Regions from separate parts of the Homo sapiens genome. Here region 1 is linked to region 2. Evidence: fine-mapped expression QTL. A gene starts in region 2. The other region holds a variant in brackets. All regions are shown on one strand. Distances are between the middles of the regions.

What was found.
Region 1: its variant is fine-mapped to the expression of TECPR1 in whole blood (TOPMed, PIP above 0.99).

What each region holds. Positions count from the first base shown.
Region 1 is chr7:98,215,746-98,218,616 of GRCh38, forward strand. TECPR1 (tectonin beta-propeller repeat containing 1) reads right to left here. Exons shown (of 26, transcript NM_015395.3): 24 at 2,191-2,297; 25 at 1,947-2,066; 26 at 1-1,758. The coding sequence ends at 1,645. Among named protein-coding and RNA genes, the nearest start is that of BHLHA15, 5.7 kb to the left of the region's middle. RefSeq lists an enhancer at 2,541-2,600. The variant G/A (reference allele first, on the strand shown) is at 1,371.
Region 2 is chr7:98,251,055-98,253,952 of GRCh38, forward strand. TECPR1 (tectonin beta-propeller repeat containing 1) reads right to left here and starts at 1,178. Exons shown (of 26, transcript NM_015395.3): 1 at 1,072-1,178; 2 at 340-494. LOC124901706 (a long non-coding RNA gene) reads left to right here and starts at 1,305. Exons shown (of 2, transcript XR_007060448.1): 1 at 1,305-1,474; 2 at 1,830-2,898. RefSeq lists an enhancer at 825-1,568 and silencers at 885-1,274, 1,365-1,464.

The DNA of each region.
Region 1 (2,871 bases), 35 kb before region 2:
AAACAGACAGGACAGGGTGGTTCCAGGTGGCCACCACCGCCAGGCCCTTCCCGTGATTGATCTGAGAGCTTCACAGCCGGCGGCACTGGGACCCATTTCCAGAAACACTGGAACACCAGGTCTCTCAGATGCCCGCGGGAGGGGCCCCAGGGAGGCCTTTCTCAGCATCAGCTTTTGGGTGACAAACCCCATACAGCAAAACTGTACAAATACACACAACGGACCCCCAGCTGACAGTGAGACCAGGACCCTAGGAAGGTCAGGTGGTGGTGAAGTCATCCCCTCTCCAACCGAGCAGAGCCTGGGGTTGGGCTCTGATGACCTCCCGGGCAAAGTGTCCAGGTGGAGGAAGCAAACTCCCAAATGGGGCACAGAGGTAATAAAAAGCAGCTGAGAGACTGCGGGATGGGGTCGGGGCCACTTGGCCGACACCTTCTGCCTCGCCTGGCCGGGCCGGGCCAGCCTCTCGCCACAGGATGGAGGGTGACTGTGCACCCTGCTCCATGTACAGGACGGGCTGAGGGTCCCATGGCCACTGCCGACAGACACAGTAGTACTGCTCCCCACAGAAGCCCGCAGTCTGCACCCTCCTACAACATGATTTGACATCCAAGAAGCCCCTGTCACCAGCGCATCTGGGGAAGGGGCCGAATGGGGGTTGATGATGGTGACTGCACACACGGACACTGCCTCCAGCCATGGGGCAGCCTCTCATCCTCTCCCAGCCTCCCGTCTGGTACCCCGGCCCCCTCAGGGAAGAGGACATCCCATCCACTCCAGTGTTATTTCCAATCTGCTGTCTCCTTCCTTCACTTTTTTTTTTTTTTTTTTTTGAGATGGAGTCTCTGTCGCCCAGGCTGGAGTGCAGTGGCATGATCTCGGCTCACTGCAGCCTCCGCCTCCCGGGTTCAAACGATTCTCCTGCCTCAGCCTCCCGAGTAGCTGGGATTACAGGCACCCACCACCATGCCCAGCTAATTTTTTTTTTTTTGTATTTTTAGCAGAGATGGGGTTTCACCATGTTGGCCCGTCTGGTTTGAAACTCTTGACCTAGGTGATCTGCCCACCTCAGCCTCCCAAAGTGCTGGGATTACAGGCGTGAGCCACGGCGCCTGGCCTCCTTCCTTCACTTTTGAAATTAAAGCCTCTTTGCAAGTCCTGCTCTGAGAAATGGTCACTGCACATGGTAAAGAGGCCCTGAGCCCCATGGCCATCTCTCTTGGTGAGGGGTGGCGGGCCCGGGTGCTGTCTGAGATGCCAGCTCAGGAGGGCTCCATCCTGGCTCTGCTGCCCCAGGGCCGGCGTTCCCGGAGGGCTCCAGGTTCCCGGTTCTAGTCCTGGAAAGGCAGAAGGGAGAGGGGAAGGGAAGG[G/A]TGGGAGGGGCCTCTGGGAGGTGCAGCCCCACCCCATGCCCCACACCCCGGGACTCCTCGCAGACGGGGACACGTGTGGGAGTGTCCGCGGAGCTTCACATTTCAGGGCCGTCTCAGCCAGTGCCTCTGAAGTGGCCGCAGCCTTGGGGCCAGGTTCCCTCCTGAGTCCACCTGGGCCACATTGCTCCCACGGTGCACACTCCAGCACAAGAATGGCTCAGCCTTGATCCCCCAAACTGGGCACCGTCCCTGCATGTAGGTGTGTGGGGGGGCCTCAGCAGCAGACGGGGCCATGGGCCTCTGGTGGGGCACTCGGCTCCTGCTCCTGGGACGAGCTCCGGGGGGCCCTGGTGGCATTGGCCCGGACAGAGATATGGTCCCAGCCTCCCTGGAAGGAGAGAGCTGTGTCACCAGGGGACTCGGGGACTCGAGGATCCTGGAGGGGATCTGCCTGGGGGCCTCCCTGCAACCCAGACACCGGGTCCCAGGGGACAGTCCCACAGTGGTCGTCCCGTCTTCAGCACCCAGTGCAGGCACAAGGTGATAACACAGCCCAAGGCCGCGGGCCCCGCTCACCCCGATGCCGTAGTCCCAGCCGTGGCCCTTGGGCTCGTGAGGCTGCACGCCGGTGCGATGACACACTGTCCCCCGGCTCAGGCTGTGGCTGCCCTGCACTTTGTTGGCGATCACCCAGACCTGGAGCACAGACCCCATGAAGCCCTCAGCCCTACCTGCAGTGGGACGGCTGGGCATGGGATGGGGGAGACCAGAGAGGGAACCAGAGCACCCCAAGTGCCCGATACCCCCTGAGCACCCCCACCTGGTCCAGGGGCCCCACGGACACTCGGCACACGTTGTTGGACACGTGCTCCCAGCTGGAGCCCTGCGGGTAGCTGGGCGTGATCCCTTGGCGATACCACAGGTTTCCTGGGGAGAAAAGCAGTGAGGGTCAAAGGGGAAGACCTTCCCGGCCCCTCCTGCCCGTGCGGCCCGGCAGCCGGTGGCCAGGCCCCGCTCTAACCACTTCGGGGTTTGGGAAGCTGCTGGGGAGGCAGGAGGGTCCTGGCCCCTGAGTCAGGGCCACAGCCTCCTCCGCTTCTCCACACTCAGGAGCCTGGGCTGCAGCCAGCTCCGCCTTCTGCACACTCGGGGCGTCCCCCGAGCCTCATAATCGCCCTATTGTGCTGGGCACGGCCGGCCTCCTGATCCTCTTTCTGCTGAGGCAGAAACTATGGACAAGGGAAGTCCTAGCCAGAGCAATCAGGCAAGAGAAAGAAAGAAAGGGCATCCAAATCGAAAAAGAGGAAGTCACGGTGTGTCTGTTTGCCCATGATAGGATCAAATACCTAGAAAACCCTAAAGACGCCTCCAAAAGACTCCTAGATTTGACATATGAGTTCAGGAAAGTCTCAGGTTACAAAATCAATGCACACAAATTAGTAGCACTGCTACATGCCAGCAGCAACCAGGCTGAGAATCAAATTAACCCCTTTTACAACAG
Region 2 (2,898 bases):
GTCACTGGGTCAGAGGACTCTTGAAAGGGGGGTTGGAACATGAAGCCCCATGATTCAGGGATCCTGGGACTTGTTTGTTTTGTAGGGTTAGAGGGATGGAGGAAAATCTTCCAAATCAGCAGCCTCGAATTCACCAAGAATTTCTACAAGATGAATTTGAGTTGAACCTTCAGTCTTTCCACGAAGAAGGTCTGCTCGCCACCCTCAAAGCCATCTGCCTTTCTGTCTCAGTTTATTCACAGATCCTTTCAGAGACCAAAAAAAGCACCCAAGAGAGGCGGGGACAGAGATGTGGTAGAGGAAAAGACACAGTACAAAGAACGCTCCGCAAGCACTTACTTCCTCTGAGCCTTAGGAGTCCTACCTAAAAGGTTTCTTGCTTGTTTTTCTATTACACTGTCACTCCCATCCGGTATGCAAACAGTCGGCAATGCCTACTACAGTAGCTCGCTGGCTGCCAGGTGCAGGGGCTGTTCAAAAGCGACATCAGGGTCCTAAAAGGTGGGAAAAAGCAGCAGAACTTGCATGGTAGTTGATTCTTTCCTGAAGAATAGGGTCCGCCCAGCCCCACCGGGCAGGAGGTGTCCTGAGTCAGCCTGGCGTTCAGCCCAGTGCTGTGCACTTGGGTGACAGGTGGGGCCCCTGCACTGCCACCAGTAGCATATGTCGGAGCTCTGGGCCCTGACCATCTGCCAAAGCTAATCTTACGACAAGCAGATTTGCTCCCATCAATACCCAGGGAGAGGGATAGGCAGGCCCCTTGCTGCGTGATTCTCGAAAACAACCAGGATCCCGCGATCCGCTTCTCCTATGGCTCCAGTCCAAAGGCTGGAATGGGGGCGTCACCTGCACCAGGCAACTTCGCTAGCCTGTGGGCGTTCCAGGGCAGGGGACGGGGGCGGCACCTTCCAGGTGTGCAGGCGAGATGACAAGTGCGGTCCCTCCTTCCTCCCTCCCCGCGAGCAAACAGCCTGGGGGTGGTGGGGAAGGCGGCGTGCCCAGCCCTTCATCGCCCCATTCTTTCCCACGGCCCTGGCCGCCGCTGCAGCTGGGGCGCCACTCTGCACTCACCTGGGCCCGCGCCGGGCGGGGCGAAGTCGCGGTGGTAGGTCCTCGGCGTCCGGGAGGAGCGGACCGGCCCTCCCGGGGACCGGGCAAGAGGGTGGGCCGGAAGCGGCATCAGGCCCCGTGCCCATTGGCCAGCCTCGCCAGGACGCTGCGACCTGGGACGTGCGATTGGCTGCGGTGCGCCGCGTCGGTGCTGGCTTCGAGGTCGCGCGCCCGCCCACTTCCGGGGTCGCGCCAGGTCAGGAGTCCAGAGTCGGCTGAAGCGAGTTGCCGCGTTCTCTCTGGCGGCGCGACACCGGCCCGTGGACCGCCCGGCCGCCCTCCAGGACCCGGTCTGCAGGAGCGGAGAGGGCGGTGTGGACACCGCCTGCAGGCGAGGAGAAGGGGTGGCGGAGAGGGTACCTGGGTGCGTGGCTGTGCGGCGTCAGGAGGAGCAGGGTGTGGGCGCCCGGCCTGGGGCGTGGAGAGGACGCAGGGAACAGGTGTCTTCCTGGTATCCATCGAACTGAAACGTAGCCCTTGAGCACACACTACACTTAAAGCTTTACTCTTTCGAGGAGGAGTCCTGGAAGCATATGTGATTTTGTGACTATAGCATGGTGTGGTGTCAGTAACAGGCCCTGGATTGCTCAAACTCTATTGTCAGTGACAAAACCCAGTGTAAGCTGGCCTAATATATTAATAGTAATATGCGAGTCCTCCCGGGGTGGCGGGCACTGACGTAAGTGCTTTACTTGGGTCTTCTCATTTCATCCTCCCAGCAACCCAAAGAGCTGGCGGCGTCATTCCCATTTTACAAATGCGAACACGGGCTCAGAGATGGAGCGACTCACGTTGTAAGCGATGGAACTGGGATTTGAAAACACTGTATCCCGCCTGGCAGAAAACTGGCAAGGTTAGGATGGAGAAAGGAGAAAAAAGAAAGATGTCGGCCAGGTGCGGCGGTTCATACCTGTAATCCCAGCACTTTGGGAGGCCAAGGCGGGCGGATCACTTGAGGTCAGGGGTTTGAGACCAGCCTGGCCAAGATGGTGAAACCCCGTCTCTAGTAAAAATGCAAAATTAGCCAGGGGTGGTGGCGCATGCCTGTAATCTCAGCTACTCGGGAGACTGAGGCAGGAAAATCGCTTGAACTGGGGAGGTGGAGGTTGCAGTGAGCTGAGATCGTGCCACTGTGCCACCGCACTACAGCCTGGGCGACAAGAGCAAAACTCCTTCTCAAAAAAGAAAAAAAAGGGCATCTGATGGAAGGCTAGATACTACCCGACATTGAGCTAAACCAATGTCACCTGGTTGGACCTAGGGACCTATTCCTGCTCCCCCTCTAGTTCTGTCTCATTTCTGGGGTTGCACACAGGCTTTTCCTGGGCCTTCATGTTTGGGGAAGCCCCACACAGGCCAGCTCCAGTGGAAGAAAACGCCCCCAGAAGCCTCTTGTTCACCCCGGATGGCTCTGTGGAGTCCTGTGTCTGACCCTGACTTTAGCTTGGGCCTGAGGGACTGGCATTTGTGGACTTGGTCTGGAGATGTGGGCAGAGCCCCCCTCAAGCATAAGGGCTCAGCCAGGCACAGGGGGTGGCTCCTCAGAGGAAGATCAGGGTGCTATTAGCAGAAGGACGATGAGTGGGCCGGGCGCAGTGGTTCACGCCTGTAATCCCAGCCCTTTGGGAGGCCGAGGCGGGTGGATCATGAGGTCAGGAGATGAGACCATCCTGGCTAACATGGTGAAACACCGTCTCTACTAAAAACACAAAAAATTAGCCGGGCGTGGTGGCGGGCGCCTGTAGTCCCAGCTACTCGGGAGGCTGAGGCAGGATAATGAGGTGAACC